Linked DNA regions of Homo sapiens: region 1 is linked to region 2. The links come from fine-mapping of genetic effects on gene expression. A gene starts in region 2. The other region holds a variant in brackets. All regions are shown on one strand. Distances are between the middles of the regions.

Region 1 (12,920 bases), 47 kb after region 2:
TCAGTCCCTGATGAGGGAGGTGCCTCAAGCTTGCAGCTGTGGTCACAGGATTAACTTCTCAATTCTCAGGCTACCCATAGGGAGATGCCATATCTTGGTTTAATCCTGTTTCTGTGGCAGATTTCAGCTTACTGCTCACACTCTGGGTCTCACGGCTCCTATGACATCAGTTTCAGTACTGTAGGTCTGATCTTCAGTTGGGGGTGGTGCTGGAGAAAGTGCTCTCACTAGGGAGCTGGGCCCTCACTGTTTCTGAATCCTCTGATCCATAAAGCAATTGTAGTGTGCCTACAAACGGGCCCTCTGACATCTGACTTTCAAATGGTTGGGATCTTTTTCCTCAGGGAATAGATTCTTTAAAAAAGCCCCTGAGTGAGAGCAGAGCGGTGGCTGGAGGTTATTCGGGCTAAATGGTTTCTCCGGCTGCCACCCAAACTGAAATGCTTTACCTAGCAATGGTCATGAGGCAGGTGACTGGAGCAAGTAACTGCTGGTAGCAAACGAGCCTGTTGAAGCATTTGTGCAGGACTGGTCTGACTGGCCTGGAGAGATTAGTTAACACCCTTGCACACTGAGCACACTCCAGAGGGGAGTCCCTGCCCTCCAGGAACTTACAACGTAGCTTGAAGGAACATGAAGACCCAGCTGTAGCTTGTTACTTAATGGCAATAGAAAATGGGTGAGGGAGTGCTGGCTGGGAATTGGAACTGACTTTCAAGTCTGGGTTTTTTCCTGTGAAGTAATTCTCAATGGAGTAGACTTCAGCTCTGGCCTAAACGCTACATTACAGTGCCTTTGTGTATCTAAATTCTGGTGTCTAATCTGGAATAACCTTTCCCAACTATGTGACAGAAGTTTGGGCGCTCTAGGAAGCATAAAGTGAGGGGGATGGAACTTGTCTTCAGTAGGTAAGCCCTGTAGATGACAATGTGGTCTTACTTCCTTAATGTGGTGGCCTGGTAGAAGCATGGCTAAGTTGAGATGGGGAAGAAGCCTAGGAAAGCCCAGGATGACTTCTGGTCTATTTTACTGCTGAAACAGTCTGGAGAACTTGTAGAGATGCAAAAATTCGTCATGATCAACAGGACAGTCAAAGGGACCTAATGTGCCATGTGTCTTTGGGACTGGGGTTAGGAACTCCCAGATAGAAGGGGATGTGATATAAACAGAACAGTCTTGTGATTTTGTCTAGTTCTGAAATCACCTCTTTTTAAAGAGCTCTCAACTCCTATCTGCAAATGTGTTTGGAACGCTTCCAGATCAAGTTCTCTGTGCATCCTCTTTAGAGGGAATTTATAGGAGCCTCTAGAACAGTGCTGAGACACACGAGCCAAAAGTATAAGCCATATATAGTCAGTCCCATTAAAGAAAAACGAATATCTTTAACCCAAGAGATGCTTATTTTGACATGTAACCCAGCTTATTCTTGGTACTGAGCCTGGTATGCATTTTAAACTTAGTGTATCAATTGAGATGGGTCCTATCAAGTGCTCAATGAATAGTGGTTATATTGGAGAGCACAGCTCTGGATAAAACATAACTTTAAGTTTTTGTTTTTGTTTAATTCATTTGTTACCGCTTTAGGGAAATGCTGATCTAAAATGACGGTAGAATGTAGTGTCTGTATTGCTGTCTGAGTGCAAATCCTTGGAAACTTCCAGGAACTAGTAGGCTAGAACCACTTGTATTACTTGGACTTTGTCAGAATGACTGCCTTTGTGTAAAACACCATTCTGTCAGCAATATGACCATTTTCCATACCCCTAGCAATCACTTTGATTATTGTGGGTAAGCTTTGTCCTGGCATCTTCTATGCCATCTATATCTAAAGCACCCATTCCAAAGCTCATTTTAGTAACTTATTTGTCCTGAGCACGGGAAATGGGAAGAATACAAGTAGCTCTCATTCAATATCTTCCAGTTTTCAGTTTGGGTTACTGGTATTCTTTAGATCCTGGACAACACACTGAGAGGTTACAGGTGTCTAGAGATCAAGTACTTGAGAGCATTTAACATCTATGCTGTAGTGCCCAATTCCTATCCCAAAAGCTCAAGCGCCCACAACTCCCCTTCCTATTATACCTAAATCAGGCTGGAGTGTGCTTTTCAGTGATGTGCTATATTAGCTTTCTAAGCCAACAGGAGTATATACCTTATTCAATTTACTTGGACTTGATGTTGATGTGTTACCTATAAGGACCAGTGGTAAACACCTGAACCTAATCAAACCTCATCTAGAGAGGAGGGGGCAGTCTTCTTGTCTTCAACACAACTGCTTAACACTTATTTCTACGGAAACTGACTTGGGTTGGATTGGGGTTTAGGACAGCTGGGATGGCTTATCCGGGAGGCATGTGATTTTTGCCAAGAAGGAAGTTTTTGGTCTTGTGGAGTTATCACAGGAAGGTAGATGGGTGTCCATTCCTCTGACCTGTGTCAGAGCTGTGGGGAGGCTGAAGAGCAGGAAAGACAGCCCCAGGCTGAAGCTGGGCTGGGCTGCTGCAAGGCCAGTGTCTGCAATTAGGGAAGAAAGGCAGCAGCCACCATGTTTAAGAACTTTTAACTTGGCTCTCTCAGAATAGAACCCCTTGGCATATCTAGAAAGTAGGAAGCTGTCAAATCAGTAGCATTGGCTGTGCTGAAGCAGTTCCCTTGGATTTGGGGGCAGTTGACAAAAATACTAACCAGAACATGGACCAACTTGTTTATGAACCCACTTGAGGCCCGGAGTTAACTAGGGCCATTACCTGGAAGCTCCTGTGCTCTTCCCCTCACTGCTTTCTCTGTATGATGCTAGATTATTTGTGACTGATACTGAGGGTAATGAAGAATCTCAAACACTGTCTGGCTTTGTTGTGTATGACATTTAAGTGAGCCAAATACTTGAGCTCCTCTGGCAAGTGTTCTGCTTTAACCAATTAGCTTGTATAACAGACTTGGCTATCTTGTCACTTGGATTTGAGTGTGATGGAAGAGTTGTTTCCCTCACCTTGTGTGAGCCTCTACCAGCAAGTTAGCCTGTTGGGGAGGCAACTAACACTTTATGGTAATTGGAGCAGTCCTTCCTACAACTGTCTTCTCAACTTGATCTTAGTTACTGTTCTCTTAGGCAGAACTTGCCCATATTTCACTTACCAAGGAGTATTTGGAAAGTTTGTCTCAGAATAAAAACCAGTGATTCCCTCGACTCAGCAGCAAAGGCATCCAATGTTTCACCCAAGCTAAACTTTGGCTATTACTCCAGCATAAAAAGCACTTGTCTAGGATGAGTCTGCATATGTCCATCCTGGTCTTGAGCTAATGCGACATGAACAGTTTGACCAAAGATGAGCTTGAGACTGGCCAGACATGTGACCTAATGGAAGATAATTATTGTACACATACACCTGTAACTGCCCTTGAATAATGAATCAGTCTTGACGGAAATAAAGCCTAGCAACAGCAAAGGACCCAATGCACGGGAAAACTCGCTGGTGTCCATTTGACTTAGGCTGAGAGAAACATGCTGAACTCCCAGCTGTCAGTTTGTCACCTGCCGTGTAATATTTCAGTGACTATTTTGCTTTGTCCAAGACTCCATAGGATTTGAGTGCATAGGTAAAGACCCTCCCTGGTGATAGAAGCTTCTTCCAGTAGATACTCAGTCACAACCATGATTCAGAGGGGCTTTCTTGATGTCTTAAATTTCAACACGTGGAATTGCATTTTAAAGTTTTTTGCTTATGATCAGGTACTAAGTGGATTGACTGCATTTTGTCAACTTTACTGGTAGTAGGCATGTCCCTAGTTATATGGGGACATGTACAATTTGAACTAATAGATCTGTTAGCTCATAAGAAATCAGAGTTCTCACAAATGCTAGCTGTTGCTTGCTATTCTATTCTCCACCCACCCCCACCATTTGTAGGAGCTGGGTATCTTTAGCATGTCTTTCAAAGATTTCTATACCTCTCACAGGGTTGAGAAAGACTTGTCAGATCAATAGATGAGACACATTCCCAGATGAACTTGGAAGTAGAACTATAAACAATGCCATGGGTATCCCCAAACCTATGCAACATTGTTTTGAACCAACACAGCCTCTACAGGTTGAGGAAGCCACACTTATTGGTATACTTCATAGTGAATTCCCCACTGCTGTGCAGTTTCTGCTCAAATTTCTACTAGGTGGTTTCACGTCACTTCCAGTTACCATGCTTCTGGTCAATTTGGGGTGGATTTTTAAGAACACTCTGGTTCCATATATAGCCATCTCTTTGGGTTCTCTCAGCATTCTGGTTCTATTTTCATGTTCATACTAGTTACTTTTGCCTAATCTTATACCACTTCCCACCCACCTCTTGTCATCTTTTAAGGTTCTATTTCCCTATCCTTAATTCTTACTGCTTTGCTTTAAGGTTGTTGGGTAGTGAGCTGATTTCCTCTTAATGTCGCAGGCATTTAAGACCATATACATACTGATTCATGAATGTATAGGACCATGGTGACTATGAACAGACCAGTCATGACTCAACTTGCAAAATACCTATGAATGTGGACAAGGAATAGTATGTACAAGAGTCACCCAGACTTGACTTCATGCCATTGTTCTGAATGCTCTCATATTGGTTCACTTATAGGAGTAACTACCTCAGGGTTTTATTTTATAGAGAAAAACTGAGGCTCAGTGTCACCCTCACAATCTCTCAAACCTAGGAAATTGTTCACTTTAGGTTGTTTTGAAGTCTTTCCATATACTACTCCTCTTACAGTGACTTGCTATAGCTTGCCTTGAGAACAAACGTCTCACTTTAATGCTTTATGGTTAAGGGTCAGGTATAACTCGGATCAATAAGCTAAACCTCTAAAATCAAATAGTCGGGTGGATGTCATTCTTACCTTGCTCAACAGGAAGCTAGATGTCTTAAGACCACTCATGCTACAGGAAATGATTGTTTCCCTGTGCTTACCTGGCTCTTGAGTACACTGACTCAAATGTCAA[CGTG/C]GTGGGTAACATGGGGCTTCTATGAAAAGCTTTTGGTGTGGCAGGGTGTAATGGGTTAAATGTCCTGAGCTTAGTCATGTACTTGATTGTCTATGACTAAATGACCAAATAGACATAAAAAGGGTGGAGTAAATCTGTCATAATTTACAGCATATCTTGCTGTTCTTTTTTTCTCCCTTTTCTCTTGGCCTGTGGCTTAACTGCACCTAACATCTCTCGGGAGTGCCTTAATAAAACCAGTTAAGGACTGCTTGTTTTATACAAGCAATGTATTCATATACCTTCCTGTTAACAGTAAAAATCTAGACTAGCGTAACAATACTTGTCTGATTAGTGAGGCAATTAGTATGTCACCTGACAAACCAGAACTGATAGAAATCTTATTTGGAGGTGTTACCATAATCAGTTTCTATTTAACCTGACATACCTGAGAAAGCATTTATGGGCCGGATCTGCCAGGAATATGACATCTCAACTACTCTGTCCTTGGTGGTTATCACCTATATGATAATCTGAAGCTAAACCTGCACAAGGTCTTCCTTATACAAAGTGTATTGGGACCTGAACCCCAGGTTTGGGTCCACAGCCAGATAACTAGTTCTGCAAGAAGAGGTGTTAGTATGGTTGTGAAAACACCTTCCCCATCCCCTGACTCACCTTCCTGTCAACTGCTTCCTACTGGAATTCCTCATGAATAGGTGGTTAACACCTTGTACTTTGTCCTAAACAACCCAGTTTTGTCTCACTCACCCCGTCTTCCTCTCCAGCTTGTTCAAGTCTCTTGTTCAAGTCATTCCACTTCAGGCCTGTTAAGACTACTTCTCTTGACACAAATCTCCAACCCACAGACTTTCTCATTCCAGCTGTTGCCTTTATTGACTTTATTTCCTTGTTATAGTATCTTTCATTTATTTAACCCCATGGCTTTTTTTCTGGTAAATCTCAACCCTTCGTGAATCCCAAATGTCTTAGTCCTAATACTAGAAAGATAAGGCTTGGCTGAGTTAGACTATGGTAGAACCATGTCTCTAAACTTATCACTGACTTCTGATGTATCTTTCCAACTCCCAAATTTCGCAGAGGGGAGAGAAGCTAGAAAAACAGGGTTGTTGGGCAATCTTGGTAAACTTGGGCCCTTCTAAACATGTAGCTTTTGTTTTATTCTTGTAACAAGTTTTTCCTTGCTTTCAGGTTATAAACGAGTGAGTAAAACATGAGATAATGTCCAGAACTCAGTGTAGCAGGAGTTGATTGATTTGCTCTGGTCTCATATGCTCACCAATTCCTCCACATTAAACCCACCAAATTAAGTAGCTGCCCTACTCTAAAATGGTTCCACCTACTGACTCCTTGTTCCTTTCTGAAATAGTCCTGGTGTCTCTGATTGCTAGAGGCTAAGTCCTGTGACTGTGTCCCTAGCAGCAGCAGGGACTCTGGGAGAGAGCCCTTGGGATAATGGGTCTCGATGGGAGAAACCCCTCAAACTGGGGTCATGAGGCCTTCCAATGTGACAAAGTTCCACAACTATGCTGAACTGGTCCTAAGAAAAGCTTACATGACTGCATGTCTAACCAGCATAGCAGATAGCCATGGCTCACCTGTGCTCTTGAAGACAGTATGAAATTGAGACCAAGTAGCTTACTCTACTCGACTCTGAGTAAATGTTTCAACGGTGTCTATGCTGCTGTGGTAAAGCATTCACTCCAAACGGGGAGCATCCTTACGTCCAGCTCACTTTTCAAGAGTTAGCAAAGTCATGGCTTTGCAACTCAGTCAAGCTTTTATGGTTACTAAGCGCCCCCTGTTGATGGCAGTTTAAAACTGGTTGTGCCCCATGCTTCAAAGTGGCAAGACCCCGTGTGTCTAATTCCTGAAACAGTCCAAGGCTCCAAACATGAGGGCAGGCCCCGTTAGGTCCTCTCTGGCAGCTTTTGCTTCACCCTTGCTTCATTGTTTGGGCCTCTTGCCTCTTCTCCTAAGATGGCTTCTAGGGTTGGCATTATCAACACAATCCCTCCATTCCTTCCACACAAGGCTAATTGCTTTGTTCTCATTTGCTCAAGGTATATGAGAATAAACATAGCTGCAAATCTTGAGCTGGTTTTGAGAAACCTGTTTCCCTAAACACCTTCTTGTGCTTGGATGGAAGGCTTAGGACCTTAGCCTAGTGCCTAGAAATGGCTGATCTTCTAGTGAGTTAATAGGTCTCAACTACAGTTAAAGTTAAAATGACCCCGACTAGCTTTTGAGACTACCTAAAGGACCCATTTGGTTCTGATCTGCCATGGACCAATACTTTGTAAAACACAATAAATAGAAAATGCCAAATTTTGTTAAACCCACACCCTAGCAAACAAAGGGGAAGAAATACATGGTTCGTTGGAAGAACATACAGGTGACAGGTGACGACTACAAATGTACAATGATAGTTATCTAGAGGTAACTGAGGTACATGTTAATGTTCTTGTACAGAATGACTATTGTGCATATAGTGCTTAATGTACTGAGTTCTTCATGTGACAAATAAGCTTGTTTAACCTACTGAATCTAGGTTGGAGTGATAGCAATGCTACTCAGAGGAAAACAACCAAAAGGCTTTGTTTTAATAGCTTTCACAGCAGAGGCCAATCTCACATCCCTCAGAAGTATGTTGACCAGAACAGAAGAATTTAAAGCTATTGTAGCAGAATTGGGGTATATTTAACTTTTAAAATGAAGTAATGCTTTATTTTAAACTCATCTCTAATCCTTCATCACCATCTAGTTACAATGGCTTATCTTAGAAGGCTACAGTTATCTTCCTGAAAAGCAAATGGATTCCAGATGTGAATTTTTCCTATACATAAATCTTTTGATGGAAAGCAAAATCCAATGTTCTAATTCAAAAGGTATGTCTTGTAGATGTGCAATATCAACTACTGATTTATACCATGTGAAGTTATGTAACTTCTATTTTTGAAACACTTAAGTTATCTAGTCTCTGCTTTTCTCTATCTCTTCAATATTACCCAAGGGAAAAGAACCTGGATGGGTTAATGAGACTAGGAACAACTCATGGCACATATGTAGTTAACCCTTCTAGAGAGAACTGCCCTCATGAGTTTTATGGTACTTGTTTTACTTCATGAATGTATATGGAAGGATTGCTCACTGAGTGGGCTTACGTTACTCAATGGTAGAAGACTTGCTCAGCCTAGTTCGGGGGCCCACTTCCAGCTTTGGTCCTCTGATTCAGTGAAACAAAGCTTGTCTGATCTTGATTTCAGGTGTAGTTCCCAATTACTTTCAGAACCCCATGGGGAAAGTGAGGTGAATGGTACCTCAGACACTTAAGCCCTGAATTTCTATGGCAGTCTTGCTGTGGCACACTACCTGCATATTGCTGATGGCCTCATATCCAGGGCTCCACACTGGCATGTAAAAGGTACAGGCCAGTCTGAGGGTCTTCAAAGGCTTTCTAGGTTCCCTGAAAGTGTGGCATTAGGAGCAACAGGATCAGACTCCCCCCGCCCCCAGCCGCCCCCTCCTCCCCTACCCCGCCACGGAGAGGAGTACCACTATCAGGGCAAGACAAACGTGGAACTCGGCCAGGTCCTGCTCCGTATGGAAGTGAGTGTCTTGGGCAGTGGGGTCTCAGAAGCTGTTTGATAGAATCTCTAGGTAAGCCTCTCCTCCCACACATGCTAGTTTGGCACACAATGGTCCTGACTTCCTGAGACAGATGAGTGTCTATAATTTTGGTCTAATGAGAAGGTCCTGGGACATTAAGCATCTTCAGGTTTCACAGTGAGAATTGCAGATGGTGTTCACAGCTTTCCCATACAATACTGAAGTCATTTGTCTAGATGTACTGAGTCCAAACTAGGGATTGCTTGAAGGAAAGACTTTCTCTAAGGTCTTCATTTCGTTTGGTGGGAATGTCAGATTGGGTGGGTTACACTAAGGGAAGAAATGAACTGCTTCTAGCAATACCTCTGTGGTGAAGTCTGGGGAGGAGAAATTAGAGTGGCAAGATAACAGATAGTTGGAAGTCTCTCACTGCTTTCCCGGAAGAAGTAGCAAACATTTTGAGGGGTGAGAGGAACTTCCCAGCACAGGGTTAGAGGAGCTCTTAAACACAGGTAAATTTCAGGAAGCTTTGTGAATTTGACTATGGGGCTGTGGCTGGATTCTTGCTCAGCTCCAATCTTAAATAGAAGGCAACCCTTTACCAGTAGGATCTAGGGAATTTTGGCCAACTTTGTCAATTCTGACCCTGAGCATAATTTTGGGGGGGGTTTCCAAGGTATATGGATGAGTCTGCCTTGGATTAGATTCTGCATCTCGGCCTGTGGTTAGGGGAGTGCTGAATGTAGGCCTGGGGAATGCATTTAAAGGCAATCAATACTAGCAGGGGTAGGAAGAACAACTTCTATGGTGTCAGTTTGGATCCTTTGTAGTTAAGTGCAAGAGACTCAGTGGGGGTAATACTTGGGGTGGGGGGTGGAAGGGAGTTGGAATAGGAGCAGCAAGGGAGAATCTTCAGGTCTTACAGGTGTAACACCTGTGCAAGGAACCAGGGAAGGGAAGAACAGGTAGAGCCCCTGCCCTGCAATATGGGTCTGCAATAGTCTCAGCCAGGTCAAGTAAGTTCAGTACCTTTTCCAAGATGGACCCTTCCTGGTGGGTGTTAATGTGAGACACACAGCTCCACACTTCATACATAGCCTTACTATGTCCATCCACATTCCTCTACCCAAATCTTGTCTCTGACCGTTCAGTCCTTTGTTCCAGGCTGCTGACTGGAAAGTGATGCCATTGAACCACCTATGTATATGTGCATTCTCATCTTGGGCCCTTTGTGATACAAAGTAGCTGACCAGGTATACTGCTTGTGGAACCCGACCCGTTGGGAACCAGGCCAGACACTTGGTTGAACTTGTAGTGCTTTAATTATCCTCTAGTATCTAATTTCGTCATGGGCTAGAATGCAGAATTGAACAGATAAGGACCACCAACCATATTTGCTTGATACTTAAGCATGGCACTAATGTTGACCATCCCCTACAGGGGTGCAATACTTGTGACTTAATATCTTGGCTGGGGTAGGGACAGTTTCAGAAGTTTCTAACTGGCCCTGCTGTGATGCTGTTACTTCACATGGCTAGGGACCCAACGTAGGGATTTATTCAAATGACAAGCACATCAATTTCAATTGTGTACTCAGGGGAAATATTTCTGGGTGGGTCTTCGGACCTAGTGGACCAACTGTCAGCCAAACATCTGCAAGAACTCCATTTCCTCAGTCTGTACTAGGGTATAATTTAAAGCTGCAATCTATTTCTCAAATGGAAGATAGTTGTAACTCCTGTGTGTGTGTACTTTAACTTGTGGCCATAATGCTCTGGGTGTCTAGATGGCAATGTCAACTCAGTTGCTATGCCCGATGGTTCACGAATTCTTTAGTTCAGTGTATATTAACATGGATGTCTGCAGAGGGAGACTTGCTAAGAACCCTTGTCTGCTCAGCTAACCAGGTCCTCCAGCTATATCTCAAGGTCTTGACATGAGAACCCCTGCTTCTGGGAGCACCGGAAGGTAGAACTGTATCTGAGTAACTTCAGTGTGGCAATAACAATCTGGTTAACCCTAAAGGTGTTCCCAAAGTTGGTAATGGGAGGTAGGGTCAGGGAATGAAAGCATAAAGTAAACCTTACTGCTGCTCTGTGAAAGGGGAAGTCTAGAAAAAGCATCGTCCGTATACATGGAACAAAGCTTAAGAAAACTTGCAGCTTGGTTTTGCCAGTACCAAGCTGAGGGAGGGGAGCAGATTCTTACAAGAGTGTCAGCACTTACCTAATGGGTCAGGGAAGACACTGCGTAGTGTTATACAAGACAGTAACATGGTCAGACTGGTATGTTCAACATAGCAACATCTCAAGTAGGAAAACTGACTTTGGGGATTGGAATAGGTGTCATAAGAGTGGGTAGTAATAGACATGATCAGCTTCCAGGCTTCTGGTATGGGCACTGCTGTGTGGTAGTGCCACTAATAGAGGATACAATAGAAGAACAAATCTGGGAGGGGAAAAGTGAGTTGTTACTGTCCTACCTAACCTTAGGATTTAGATCTGGTATAAACCTAGCTTATGATGGGGAGCTCCAGTTTGGGATATTACTTGGTGCGAAATGTTCAGGACTCAGTCTCCCCTGGGGTCTAATAGTTTTAAGTCATGGCCTATTTCTCAAATGCAGAATAGTTCTGTCATAGATCGTGCCTTGCAGTAGAAACCTAGGGTTTTATGTTTGGATTTTCCAGAGGTGTCATGTGGCATCTTCATGCATCACAATTACTTCCAGCACCATGTTAGATCACCTAGCCCAAGCAGTAGGGCACCTTTATGCTGCAACCTGCAACTACTACAGGTATGCTTTTCTCCTGAACTTAAGGATCAGTAAGCTCACTAGATGGTTTTAGAACCATGGCACTTCTCAAGGTATGGACAACATTCTCAGGATGTACCCCTTGTATGGTGCCCTGCTCCTCATGAAGAAAACTCAAACTGCGTTTCTCCAGGACGTTAATTTTGGCACTAGATGCTTCCAGGCATCTGCATCATCCCTTCCAAACTAAGGGAATTTAAATAATTCATGCTTAATGCACTGAGGGCCATGGAGCCCCTGCTTTGGGTTGGTGCTTGCCCTGGTGTGTCCTTTGGGGTGAGTGACCCATGTTCAACTACTGGTAACATGGAACCCTTCAGAAGCTGTCAGGGTGTGGTGCTTCCTCCTACAATGGAAGGAAGAACTAGGGACTGCACACAGGTTTGGGAGGTCTCCAGTTGAAACCATGCAGGCACTTAGAAAGAAAATAGCTCCAATGTGTCTGAGCAAGTGGTTGGAGTGCCTACGGAGAGGTGAGGTTGAACATCTGAGCAGGTGCACATAAGCTGTAGAACTTCTAAAACTATACCGATCTCACCTGTAGCTTCATAGCCACCTCAGACTCGAGTACCATGTCATAGTTACGTAGTACAACATAATCCTAGAGTTCCCCTAGAACTTGGAGGTAACTGACCATAACAGGATTTGCAACTGACAGGCTTGGCTGGTACCCTAATATGCCTCCAGTGTTCTGTCCTGTACACCTATACTGACTTCTATTTCCCTTCTGCTGTGCCTCTAGAACTCCAGTCAGCTTCTCCAGCTACCCTCTTCAACTGTCAAGATTACTTGAGTCACTAAAACCTAAGCATATCGCTTGTGAAACTCTTCACAAGGCTGTTATTTGTTAGAGCTGGGAGAGGAGCTTAGTAGTCTTAGACTCTCCAAAAATTGTTCTGAAGTTTACTCAACCTAGTTTTAAACACTATGAGCTTTCTTACTGAGGCTTTTGCTACTAAGAACTATTTCTACTGTTGGTCAACATAGTAAAATGGCCTGGAGATGAGATGAAGATCAAGGCACCTTAAAAGGATCCTCTGCCCTGAGATCCTGCTATCCTTGACTACCTTAATATCCATTTGAATGACCCAGCCAAAAACTTACCATTTCCTCAGTCTGAAATTTGAGGCTGGATATTGACATTTTGGGCTGGAAAATTCTTGGTGGGGGATGGTCTGTTCTGTGTATTGTGGAATGTTTAGCAGCATCCATGGTCTCTACCTGCTAGCTACCAGTAGCATCCGTTTCCCTGCTGACAGCCGAAAATGGCTACGGACATTACCAAATGTGCTGCGGGGTGGTGGGTGGGGCAAGATTGTCCCTGTCTGAAACACTGCCTCAGATGGCTGGTGCTAACTATCTGCACCATGTCCTACTTGGATTTAATCTTTATCCTCCCAAATGTCCTTAAACATGTATGTAGGCCTCTGATCTCTAGCCCTGGGATCTTTCTCTCCCTCCAATCCCTTCCTTCTGACTCCTTTCCCTTGAGTTTTGTTGGTGAATTTCTGGT
Region 2 (12,920 bases):
GCCCTGGGCTCAGGCAATCCTCCCATCTCGGCCTCCCAAAGTGCAGGGATTACAGACATGAGCCACCATGCCCAAACTTTTCTTTTTCTTAAAAATACGGAACACTTCATAAATTTGCCTGTCATCCTTGCATGGGGGCCATGCTAATCTTCTCTGTAACATTCCAATTTTAATATATGTGGCCAGGCGTGGTGGCTCACGCCTGTAATCTCAGTACTTTGGGAGGCTGAAGCGGGCAGATCACCTGAAGTCAGGAGTTCAAGACCAGCCTGGCCAAGAGGGCAAAACCCTGTCTCTGCCAAAAATACAAAAATTAGCTGGGCGTGGTGGTGCACACCTATAATCCCAGCTACTTGGGAGGCTGAGGCAGGAGAATCCCTTGAACCCAGGAGGCAGAGGTTGCAGTGAGCCGAGATCGTGCCACTGCACTCCAGCCTGGGTGACAGAGTAAGACTCCATCTCAAAACAAACAAACAAACAACAAACAACCCCCCCCACACACAAAAAAAACAACAAAAAAACAATTTTAATATATGTGATGCTGAAGCAAGCACCAGCTGACGTTGAGATGGTGAGACTATACTGGACTATTCAGGTGGGCCCAATGTAATCACTAAGGTCCTTATAGCTGGAAGTGGGAGGCAGAAGAGTCAGAGTCAAGAGAGATCTGGAGATGCCATGATGCCGGCTTTAAAGATGGAGGAAGAGCCACAAGCCAAGGAACGCAGGTGGCCTCTAGATGGTGGAAAAGGCAAGAAAATGAATACTCTCTAGAGCCTTCAGAAGGACTGCAGCCCTGCTGACACCTTGATTTTAGCCCAGTGAGACCCATTTTGAACTTCTGACCTCCAGAACTGTAATATGATAAACATTTGTTGTTTTAAATCCCTAAATTTGTGGTAATTTCCTAGACCATCAGTGTGAAATTAATATAGATGCTATCTGACTGCCAAGGCTGGTTTGTAAAAGGAGACACAGTGTTCACCTGATTTTCTTCAGGCCCTGCCACCATGCCATGAGGAAATGGAAAGACCACGTGGAGTGGTCACATATAAATGTTCCAGCCACCAGCCTCAGCAGAGGTCCCAGCCCACAGTCAGCAACAACTCCAGACACGTGAGTGGCAGCAAGATGATGCCAGCCGCAGTTACCATCTGATTACAACTTCATAAGAAACCCTGAGCAAGGGCTGCCCAGCTGAGTTCAAGCAACGCCCCAGACCTGTGGGTGATGATAATAAAATTATTGTTGTTTTGAGTCACTAAGTTTTGGGTGATTCATTGTACAGCAGTAGATAGCCGAAGCAGTCAGTATGTAACAACTGTTTAAAATTTACACTTTGTCTTGAATTGTCTCGTTTTAAATAAGTATTCACTTTCATATCTAATTTTGTATTTGTAAATTCTTTTTTTCCTAGAGAGAGCCCCTCCAAATAGTAAAGCTTCAAATGTACTACCTTAAATCTGGTTCTACTTCTGCATGTAGCCACAATTTCTTATTCAGAATGTGGTTGAAAACATAAAAATATACGTAATTAAACAGACCTGAGGATCTTTGATATAAAGCAGTCTTTCTTTTTTTCTGAGACGGAGTCTCGCTCTGTCACCAGGCTGGAGTGCAGTGGCGTGATCTTGGCTCACTGCAACCTCCACTTCCCAGGTTCAAGTGATTCTCCTGTCTCAGCCTCCCAAGTAGCTGGGACTACAGGTGTGTGCCACCACACCCAGCTAATTTTTGTATTTTTAGTAGAGACAGGGTTTCAACAGCAGTCTTTCTTTTTAAAGTTAAAAAAAAAATTTCATTTTGAAAACACTTTAAAATGTTAACAGAAGCAAATTTTAAGCTTATACCACTTATCCATATCACTTTAAACATCAATTGCCTTTTCATTTGAGATAAAAAAAGAGATCATGACTCTCACAGACAGTAAAACTTCTTTTGGAAATAAGATGATACATTCAACAGATGTATCCTAAGTTACTCTTTGCTGACAGTGTCAACTTCATATAGCACTGTGATGTCAAGGAAAGACAGGAAATCTCTGAGTTAGGTCATGGTTCTTGAAACAAACCATGAAAGAAAAATGTGTTACATAAAGAATCATGTACAATGTACCAGAATGTAGCCTGAGCCACTTAAAATATATTTTAAGATGATTTTGAGATGATTAGTTCTGATTTCAGGCATTGCCGAATTCTCAGTTCACTCTCCTTTGCCAGGCTTTTCACATTATGTCAAAGCTACTTCATTTATTTCAGTTGATTATTCGTGTAAAAGAGAGAGCACTGGATAACAAAGTACTGAGTCGGGCTTCAGAGTCAACCGAGCATTTAGTTCTCAAGTTCTCAGGTTGCAGAGATAGTTCCTACAAGGCTACTCTCTTGCAGGCTAGTAGAACTGGGAGGGACTAAAGTGGCTGGCTGGAAAAACTGGTCCTCTTGCTGTAGTCATTCAGATGGTGTCTACAGTGTGGATAATTTCCACAATTCCAAAGCCAACCCTACGTAGATAAACACTATGAATGTTTATGAATATGGCCAACCCTTGCATAAACACTCTTCCAAAAAAACAGGGCATGCTTCTAGCATTAACAACAAAAGCAACAAAATATATAGTAAATGGATTGTAAAATGTTGATTTCAAATTTGAGATGGTCTTGTTTGTGGGAAAATCAGAAAGGAGAATATATGAGATGTTTCACTGACTTATTCTGCTGATTGCTTGAAGACAGAGATTAATCATCTGCTATATAAATCATCTCATTCTTCCAGGTTCTGATTTAAAAATGAGCTCTTGGTTGAAAAATCTGCATTACTTCAAGATAGCACCCTATGCTACTATGCTATACCTTCCCTGTTTCTCTTCCTCAGAGAGGCATTCCTGTCTCCATTGCAGGTTCTGTGAAGCAAGACTTATCTAAGCAGGAAGTTTGGGGCTGCAAACCACTTTTTTTTTTTTTTTTGAGACAGGGTTTTGCTCTGTTGCCCAGGCCAGAGTGCAGTGACATGATCATGGCTCACTGTAGCATAGACCTCCCAGGCTCAAGCAATCTTCTTGTCTCAGGCTCACATGTAGCTGGGACTACGGGTGCATGCCACCACGCCCAGATAATTTTTAAAATTTTTTGTAGAGATGAAGTCTCGCTATGTTGCCCAGGCTGGTCTTGAACTCCTGGGCTCAAGTGATCCTCCCACCTCAGCCTCCCAAAGTGCCGGGATTCCAGGTATGAACCACTGTGCTCAGCCTAATGACAGAAAACAGCCCAGGCAGGGACCCAGCAATAGTGAGTAGACGGGGAGGGGGAGTATGGCCTCATGTCAGCTTTACGTATCCTTATCCTCAGGTTCTTTCCTTTCAGGGCTGCTTTCCACCAGACTTCTTTGATGAGGTTAGGGATGATCCCTTCCTTTCCCTTCATGAAGTCACAACATGGTGCAGCCTAGAAATATATAGCTAGTTGCTTTCACAAATGTTTGTATTCAGTCATCACATATGAAGCAGACACAACTACCTCTGGCTTTTTGTTTTCCTCAGTTTAGAAAGCTGAGGCTCAAGACCATGGGAATTATTCAGGGTATTCAAGGCACCATTTCTAATGAGTAGGAAAGCTGAGACACAAAGCCAGTTTGATCCATGGCCAGTGCTTTTGCCCTACACCTCAGACATACCAGGGTATATGCTGGGGCCTTGTTTTATTTATGTATTTTTGTATTCCTGGTGCCTAGTAGCATGCCTGGCACTCAGTGTGTATTCACTAAATTTCGATTGAATAAAAAGCTAGGATTTATTGTCAAAAACCATATCTTTGAGGAGAAAGATGATATTTGGAAAATTGTAGCAATTTTGATGCCTTATGAAGTTCAGGGAAGTCTAAGTCATTTAGGGAAGCACTGCAACTGTCCCATGAGAGTGCCCTATTTTCAAGGTAGAAGCTTAAGTGTGAGCAGGTTTGCAGCACACTTGTCAGGAGTCAGGGATTCACTGAATGTAGTCAGTGTTTCTGTGTGGGCACTCCCTGCTTATTACCCATTCTGTGAGCACCTTTTAGTTTCAGTCTCACATGTCACTGAGGACAATGGGCTGCACATCAGGCTTTCATGGGGTTATTGGTGACAGTATCACCCAACCCCACTGCACCCCTACCACATGCTGTAGAAAACCAAGTATCTTAAATTGTCTGGAAGTTCTTGGGGGCTGCCAAGTTTCTGATTTCCTTATTTTGTATGTGTGCATGATACAGGAAATTTGCCTTCCAGAAAGCTCAGGAAAGGCTAATGGGTAAAGCCTGATTAGCCTAAGGGGAATAATGTCTTTTTCATAAATAACACTTTCAGCTCCGGCAAGGTAAGCCAATGTGATAAGGACAAATAGAATGAGGAGAATTTTTTTTTAAAAGATATATTAACAAACAAAAAATTCTGCAAAGTAAACAGAGAAAACCTACATAATCCCCCAGCCCATTTCCTAAGAATATCATCATTCTTAAAATGAGGTGTTTAAAAAAGAGGATGCTGTATTAATAATTACTGGATCTGTATTTTTAATGATTGCTTTCCTTTAATCTTAAAGAGATAAGTGGACTAACGTGGATAAAGGGCTCCATCTTGGACAACTTGATCAGTCTTTTCTTCTGTGCTGAGCAGGGCCTGCCAAGAGCAGGAAATTCAACGCCATTTACAAAGCTTTCTTGTCTTACTCTCAGAGAAAGCCATCACTGTTCACATCATTCAAGAGGCTGTCTGTAAAAGGACACATAAAATACCAGTTATGAAATATAGAGTACACATTTAGTATAGCTTCATATCATTTAGTGCTAAGCAGCAAGATGATTATGTCAAATAAAAGTTATCACTTATTTATGTTTAAAAGATCAGATAAGCATTGGATAAAATTATGTAGCCTAAGCAAAGGACAATTTCTAAATCTTTTCCTTTTTGTTTTATATAGTCTGTTATTTTTAAAGTCTTCTACCACATAAATTTGCATTTCCTCTTTCACATCACTTATAAAATAACGTATGTTCCTTTTTTACCTTTGCCTTCTTACTTGAAAAAAACATCCCCAGTCTCCTTCATGCTTTGATCACAAACTCTTCATTTCTCTGATGGTGGATAGTTGGTCGAGCTGCTTTCTGTCTGTGGGCCCTGTCCACTCAGCCTATTGATGCTCTGTACAATGAGCTGTCATCTCTGTAATTTTAATCTTAGCTCTAGTCTCTAAGTTAGTTTCATGCTCCTATTATGTTTATCAGCATAGATTTCCAGCAAGATGATTATGTCAAATAAAAGTTATCACTTAATGTTTAAAAGATAAAACAAGCATTGGATAAAATTATGTAGCCTGTAAATCATTTAAAACTGGTGTGCTAATTTTATCTTATTTTCCAAAACCCTCACCAAGCTCACACCTCTCTGAAATAAGTGTTAGCTTTTTGGGCTGCCTTCCCCCAGTTGCTCTGTGCTCCAAACAGATGCCTGTGTTTAGTCCGAGCTAATATGCAAAGGGACCTAGTTTTAAAATTCCTTAGCTGCTCCGCAAAGAAGAGCGCTGCCAAAGCTATGTTGTGTGCCTTCCCATATTTCACAAGTAACAAAATAATTCACAGAAAACACATAGAAGAACAGAAAGGAGAAATCTCTTCCCAGGGACTATCTGATTATGTAGATTAGAACTCACGAATATGGTATTTTCTAATTTAGGAGGGAGAGAGTAAACAAATAAATGTTCCAGGGCAGTCAACCACATGCCCCATTGATATTCCGTGTGAAAGTGTCTCTGGCCTAAGGCACCTGGTTTGTTTGCTTTTTGTCCCGTCCTGGGAGACGTGTCGCCTATAATAACAACGCTAATTATAATGAACAATAAATGATAATTTATGGGTTACCAAGGACCAAGAAGCTCTGGGAGTCTTCATTAAAACAACAGCACTACAACCTCTGGAGGTACGCCGTAATTATTAGATGTTTACGTACCCTCATCAGCGTGCTAAGTTTTTATTGAAAAGCCCCTCCTTCAGTCCCTCCTGAATTTTTTTAAATTATGGAAAAATTCCAAGACACAGAACTAGAAAGAATACTGTAATGCAGCCTCGAGTACCCATCACCCAGCTTCGACCCTCAACTTTTTGCCTATCTTATTTCACCTCTCTTCTCCATTTTTTTTTCTCTTGGACTGTAAAATTTTAAAGCAAATACCCAAACTTGTAGCATTTATTGAATATTTTAGTAAACGCCCCGACAATGTTATAATAATTTGGTGGGTTATTGCAAAATGGAACGCCAAGACAAAATAAAGAAGGAATGTAGAAAACTCTCCCGTGGCTGAAAAGGCTGTCACAAAGGTTAGCTGTTAGGAGAAGCGCCGCGAGCGTGACATTCCCCCAAGAAAGGCGGAGGCAGCCAGGCGAGAAGGCACAGCCCCGCAGGGCAGGTAACTGAATACCTTCTCCGCTGCACACCCAGGCATGCGCAATCCAGACCCTGGAGTTGCTAAGGCCCCAAGGCAGAGAGAGGCTCAGGCTACGGAGAAAGCCAATCAGAGGGCTCCAAGACTGATAAGTTAGCCAATCCAGATTCGAGGGTGAATCAGGTCCTCAGCATGCCCATCGCCCCACCCGCATCCAATCAGAGAGCCGGCTACTTTGGGCGGACTTTTCAAAACAGCGAAAACAAAACAAATCGGGGACCTTTAAAAGGCGTAATGAGACCAGAAACGATCTCCTTCCGCCCCTCTGTCTTCCCCCGTTCCCCAACGCAGATCAATCGCGGAATAAGCCCGACGCCCAGATTCCGCTCTCCGCCCTAGCGCCAGGCGGGAGGACTGGCTCGGCAAAGCCAAGGAGAGCTAGGGAGGCCGCGAGAGAGGCTCGAGACGGCAGCTTAGGGGCGGGACTCTTTTTTAAAGTCCGTGGAGGAAGTGCAGGATCCCTCCGCGGGGAGTCACGTGCCCCGCCCCCTTGGGGGCGTCGAAACTCTTAACAAAAACAAGGGGCTCGGGGAGGTTTCCGCTGAGGCGGCGGGGGTGCGGCGGTGGGCTGGTCTTCCGCGGCCGGCGTTGCGCCGCGGCGGAGGGTGGGCGCGCGGGGAGCGGGATGGAGCCGGGGCTGTGAGGCCGAGGCGGCGGTGCCTGGGAGGAAGGGTCGGATGCCGGACCGGGGGCACCGCTGAGGCGGTGGGTCCCCGACCTGCGAGACAGGTTTGGAAGCCCCCGCTGCGCCCAGTCCGTGCGGACCGCGAGGCCGCGGGCGGGTGGAGGCGCGTCTCCGGCACGGTGAGTGGACCCGCCCAGGGCCGCCGTGGGTTTCTTTGTTCGTGGTGGGGACTGTGGGCTTTGAGGAGGTTGGTACCATGCGAGTGCCTCGGTGCTGCCTGCTCCTCATCCGCTGGAGCGACCAGGGTGCTGCCCTCAGCCCCAGCCCCGGGGGGAGCTGGCGCCCGCGATGGACAGATAGATGCTCGTGGGGTGGAAGGAGGTTGCGACTAGGTTAAGGGCAGTCTCCGCCTCGGTGCCCCCCGCCCCCGCTCGTGTTGTCACGGGGACTTGCTGGCGTGGTGCTTCTCGAATTGACAGCCCCGGGGCTCTGCAGAGTTGTGGGGCCCCGGCATCAGTGGGTGGACGGGTGTTGTCCCTACGGGCGCGGGGCGGGCGGGCTGGACTGGACTTCTCTCCCCGGACCGTAGCCGGGTGTGCCGCGCCACCCCAGGGCTCCTGGGACGGGGGTATCCGCCTCTCGGGTAAGTCCGGAATCGGCGCTGCAGCAGCGGACGGGAAAAGCTGGGGGCGGGACTCTCCGAGAGGGGCTTCTGCAGCTGGGCGCCCCGGGCGGGCGGGGCTCGGGAGTCTCCTCCCTCCGCTTCTTTGTTCAGTCGCGAGACTCTCCCTCCCCTCCCCCCTATTGTGCAACACCCCATCCCCGGGACCCGCTGCAGTCGCTCGCCACACTGCAGTCCCCTGGGCAGAAGGCCCTCCCTGGCGCGACTTCAGGTGGGGCAGACCGAGGGGACGCCGGCGCCCGCGGACAGTTTCCTGTTTGTGAAACGCCAAGAGGCCAGGGCTGGCCGGTCTTACCCAGCGCTGGCCGGCGGACCTGACCACGGCTCCTCCCCCTGCCACACCTCCCTGGCCGTGGTGGGGATTGCCCTGGGGCTCTGGCGGACGTGACTGGTCCCTTCACCCGCTCCTTGTCGGGGTGTGCTGGGGCGACCCTTGCTGGAGGTACTGGCCTCAGCCCTTTCTCCCGCTTCCCCACCCCTCTTACCCCCAGATTACATTCTCTGTGTGGTGTCTTTACTGCAGATGAAGGATTTGGGGGCAGAGCACTTGGCAGGTCATGAAGGGGTCCAACTTCTCGGGTTGTTGAACGTCTACCTGGAACAAGAAGAGAGATTCCAACCTCGAGAAAAAGGGCTGAGTTTGATTGAGGCTACCCCGGAGGTAAGTTGGCAGAAAAGATAACTTGCTCAAGCAGCTGATGGGGCTTGGAGGAGGTAACCCCCCCGCCCCCGTTGAATCATGACTAAAGCCTGCAAAATTTCTTAAAAGTTGTTCTTTCTGGAGTACCAAGATAAACCTTATTACAGGTTAATGCTTTTGTTTCTTAGCAAGAATGAGAGTGATACTTTAGAGAAGTGGGGTTTTTTGTTGTTGTTTTTAATGTGGCACCCTCCTCGCTGCCCCCCATACTCCAGCCTGCAGCTTCAGGATGGGAGACCCCGGGTGAATTGAGTAGTTCATTTGTGCAAACACCCTCTGCCTGTGAAATACATATTTATAGTAGAATCTTAAATGACTTTAGAAAAGCAAACAAAAGAACCCTTTCTCTCCATTCCAAGGGAATTGAATTATATTTGCTATAACTCTCTGAAATCTTGCAACAGTTCACCTTATATTGAATTGCTGAAGCTCTTTTATGATGCGTATTTTTAAGAAGCAGTGATTTACGTCTTACAGATGATAAAGTGTATAGCTTTAGTTAAGCGATACCACTCTTTCCACCTATATTCTTGAAGATTGAGGGAAAAAAATTAACCTTATTCTTGGGAAAAAATTAACCTTATTCTTTGGACCTGTATGTGTTTTTCATCTGGTTCTAAGAAAATTGTAAACCTTGGTTCTTGGTTTTTATTGCAGAATGATAACACTTTGTGTCCAGGATTGAGAAATGCCAAAGTTGAAGATTTAAGGAGTTTAGCCAACTTTTTTGGATCTTGCACTGAAACTTTTGTCCTGGCTGTCAATATTTTGGACAGGTTCTTGGCTCTTATGAAGGTATTTCATCATTTTTATAAATATGTCTTCCTTTTTCTATGCCCAGTGCCTAGCACACAGGGTTCAAGAAATATTTATCGAATGGGTATAATAACGTCCACTGTACATAAAAATTTATAATCAGAATTGTGATCGTTAGTGCCAGAATAAGACTACAAGATTAATTGTATTGTTGTATCTTAGGTTTTTCTGTTGTGTCTTAGGTTTTACCTCTTAAGTACTTTCTCTTGAATATGTGACAAAAGAGAGACTACTATTTTTTAGGTATTTGCCATATATTTATAGTCCTCAATATAAGATTTCATCTGCCATCATGCTTCTCTTGAAGCCAGATTTTTAAAATACTGAAGCATGACAAATGAAGTATAACAGTTTATTAAATATGACCGGCTGCCTTCCCTAGAAGTCTCTTCAAAGCAGGGAGCCATGGTTTTATTAACAGTCACCAGCAATGGCTAGAAAAATGTGGGGAATCTTCTGCCAGTAGGATTGCTGTCAGCTGCTGGGTCAGTTCTCAGGGCACTGAAAAGAAAAGGGCCGCCATCTGTCCATGGCAGCTTTTACATATGTCCCACTCTGCACAACTCGTGATATTTCTCTTGGGCAAAATTACATTGAAATATGGAATGACTCTTAAAGATTTTTATGTAAAAAGATAAGTATAAAATATTTTAATATCCCAGTACATTTTTTTTTGGTGTTAAAAAGCTTAATTTATTTTGGGAGAGATTATATTATGAATTTCATAAGTCTGAAATACAAATTATACTTTAGTGCTAGGAATCTAGCTTTTGAACCTGCATGGAAATTTTTGTACCTGCATTTGAATTTACATAATTTAAAGGTTCAAAAAACTTTTTTTTTTTTTTTTAAATAGAGATGGAGGCTTGCTGTGTTGGCCAGAATAGTCTTGCTATGTTGGCCAGAGTGTTCTCAAACTCCTGGCCTCAAGCAGTCCTCCCACCTCAGCCTCCCAAAGTCCTGGGATTACAGGCATGAGCCACTGTTCCCTGCTGCCTTTTTTTTTGGGGGGGGGGGGAGGTCGAGAACGTCTAAAATGTGAAAATGTGTATAATTGTGGGTAAAGAGCCAGTACATATAAGAGAAACAACTTGATTGTGTTCTGTCTTAAGAATAGGAGCATCATTACAATATTCTAAGTATCTGCTAAGTCAAAGTGACAGTTGTTAAAAGAAGCCTCTTGTTTTTTTCTCAGGTGAAACCTAAACATTTGTCTTGCATTGGAGTCTGTTCTTTTTTGCTGGCTGCTAGAATAGTTGAAGAAGACTGCAATATTCCATCCACTCATGATGTGATCCGGATTAGTCAGTGTAAATGTACTGCTTCTGACATAAAACGGATGGAAAAAATAATTTCAGAAAAATTGCACTATGAATTGGAAGCTACTACTGCCTTAAACTTTTTGCACTTATACCATACTATTATACTTTGTCATACTTCAGAAAGGTCAGTGGGATTAAAGATACATTTTGTACTTTGAACATTGCTATAGCTAACAGTAAATAATTGGAATGGCAATGAAATTTATATTTTTACCTTCTTCAAACTTTCAACTTTGACTTTATTGGTAAATCTTTTTTTTTTTTTTTTTTTGGAGAAGGAATTTCGCTCTTGTTGCCCAGGCTGGAGTGCAATGGCGTGATCTCGGCTCACTGCAACCTCCACTTCCCGGGTTCAAGCGATTCTCCTGCGTCAGCCTCCCAAGTAGCTGGGATTACAGGCGTGCGCCACCACACCTGGCTAATTTTATATTTTTAGTAGAGACAGGGTTTTTCCATGTTGGTCAGGCTGGTCTCGAACTCCTGACCTTAGGTGATCCACCTGCTTCTGCCTTCCAAAGTGGTGGGATTACAGGCGTGAGACACCGCGTCTGGCCCTGGCAAATATTTAAAATCATTTAAAATCATTTAAATCTTTGGAAGTTTAATAAATCTTTGTTCTTTGCATTGTATAGGAAAGAAATACTGAGCCTTGATAAACTAGAAGCTCAGCTGAAAGCTTGCAACTGCCGACTCATCTTTTCAAAAGCAAAAGTAAGTCGATTCCTTGCTTATGTATATATCTCACAGTTTGTATTTTGAATTTTTAAAAAATATTTTTCTTTTTTTTCTTTTTTCTTACAGCCATCTGTATTAGCCTTGTGCCTTCTCAATTTGGAAGTGGAAACTTTGAAATCTGTTGAATTACTGGAAATTCTCTTGCTAGTTAAAAAACATTCCAAGGTAATTACAGTCATTATTCTTTAAGGCAAATTTTTTTCCTGATGTTTATTTTTTTCTGTGGTGACTTAAACATTAAGTAATACTTTATGGGACTCTTAACTTTTACACTTGTTTTTTTTCTTATATCTCTAGTGTTAAAGTTCTCAAAATGCAGCTTTGACCCAGACAGTATTAATCCGGAAGGGAACCTGGTCACTTAGCTCAGCTTCTTTCTGCATATAGGTGCCCCTTCTGTAGTAATCATGCCATATGATAGTACAGCTGTTACATTGCCACATATGCATTGTTCTGAAATGCATACTAGGTAGTAGACTCAGAACAAACACTAATGGGATAGGATGGGATCCCATCACACCTGTAGGACTGAACTGTCATCCCATTAGCAGCAGCATCAATTAACACCAGCAATGTTGATGTTTTAAACCCGAATGTCTTTTCAAATCCTTTAGGCCAGCTAAGTAAAAGTAAGTCTTACCATCACAAAGAGATATAAAACAAAAGCACAATACTTTTTCTTAAACTCTCAGTCTAGTTGGGGAAATGAGGAACTTAACATGAAGTGGTGTGTTCTGTCATTTGTTATTGTGTCTTGGTGCCAGGTAATAGTGAATATAGAGAGTACTTTGGGATTTTTTTTTTTTTTTTTTTTTTTTTTGAGACAGTCTTGCTCTGTTGCCCAAGCTAGAGTGCAGTGGCATGATCTTGGCTCACCGCAACCTCAGCCTCTCGGGTTCAAGTGATTCTCCTGCGTCAACCTCCCGAGTAGCTGGGGCTACAGGTGCTCACCACCATGCCAGGCTAATTTTTATATTTTTGGTAGAGATGGGGTTTCGCCATGTTGGCCAGGCCGGTCTTGAACTCCTGACTTCAAGTGATCCCACCTGCCTTGGCCTCCCAAAGTGCTGGGATTACAGGCGTGAGCCACTGTGCCCGGCTTACTTTGGGTTTTTTTTAAGCAAAGAAATAGGGCAGACTAGGAGAAACACTATGACTGGGAGCCTGTTTGGAGCAAAAGAATCTTTGACAGTGAAAGTTTCAGCGAAGGCTTAACGGCCAAGAAATTGGTGGACTAGACAGATATAAAAGTCATTTTAGGGTAGACTTACAGGTACAATGTCTAGGTGGTAGTCACAAGCAGGAGTAAGGCTGTCCAACTCAAACAGTGGTTTTGGAAGCCAAGCATGGAAATGAGGCAAGGAGTCTTGAATGACCAAGATTTGTACCTAATGGTGGATATAATATTAGCATAATTGGCAGGAAATTTGGGAGAAGTTAATTTGTGATGAGAGCAATATGATTTTAGATGCTTGTGTACACAGGTGGGTGTCTAGTAGGTGTTTGGCGTTTTGGAATAAGAAGATAAACTATAGTTAGAGATTGAGGTTTGGAATTTCTCATGAAGAAGCAGTA

Direction of the effects. Alleles are on the strand shown, and positions count from the first base shown. SD is a standard deviation of normalised expression in the study named.
For the expression in esophagus mucosa of the gene that starts at base 6,970 in region 2, allele CGTG in region 1 goes with a lower level than allele C (small effect, 0.20 SD a copy in GTEx).

Evidence for each region.
Region 1: its variant is fine-mapped to the expression of CCNG2 in esophagus mucosa (GTEx, PIP above 0.99).

Annotation. Positions count from the first base shown.
Region 1 is chr4:77,197,011-77,209,930 of GRCh38, forward strand. No RefSeq gene overlaps it. Among named protein-coding and RNA genes, the nearest start is that of CCNG2, 46 kb to the left of the region's middle. The variant CGTG/C (reference allele first, on the strand shown) is at 4,982.
Region 2 is chr4:77,150,238-77,163,157 of GRCh38, forward strand. CCNG2 (cyclin G2) reads left to right here and starts at 6,970. Exons shown (of 8, transcript NM_004354.3): 1 at 6,970-7,269; 2 at 8,296-8,433; 3 at 9,130-9,267; 4 at 10,484-10,734; 5 at 11,243-11,321; 6 at 11,412-11,510. The coding sequence starts at 8,296. LOC101928864 (a long non-coding RNA gene) reads right to left here and starts at 7,827. Exons shown (of 2, transcript XR_244659.5): 1 at 5,033-7,827; 2 at 4,517-4,739. It also overlaps the pseudogene RNU6-1187P. RefSeq lists an enhancer at 2,357-2,406 and silencers at 4,117-4,186, 6,529-6,648, 7,069-7,138, 7,169-7,278.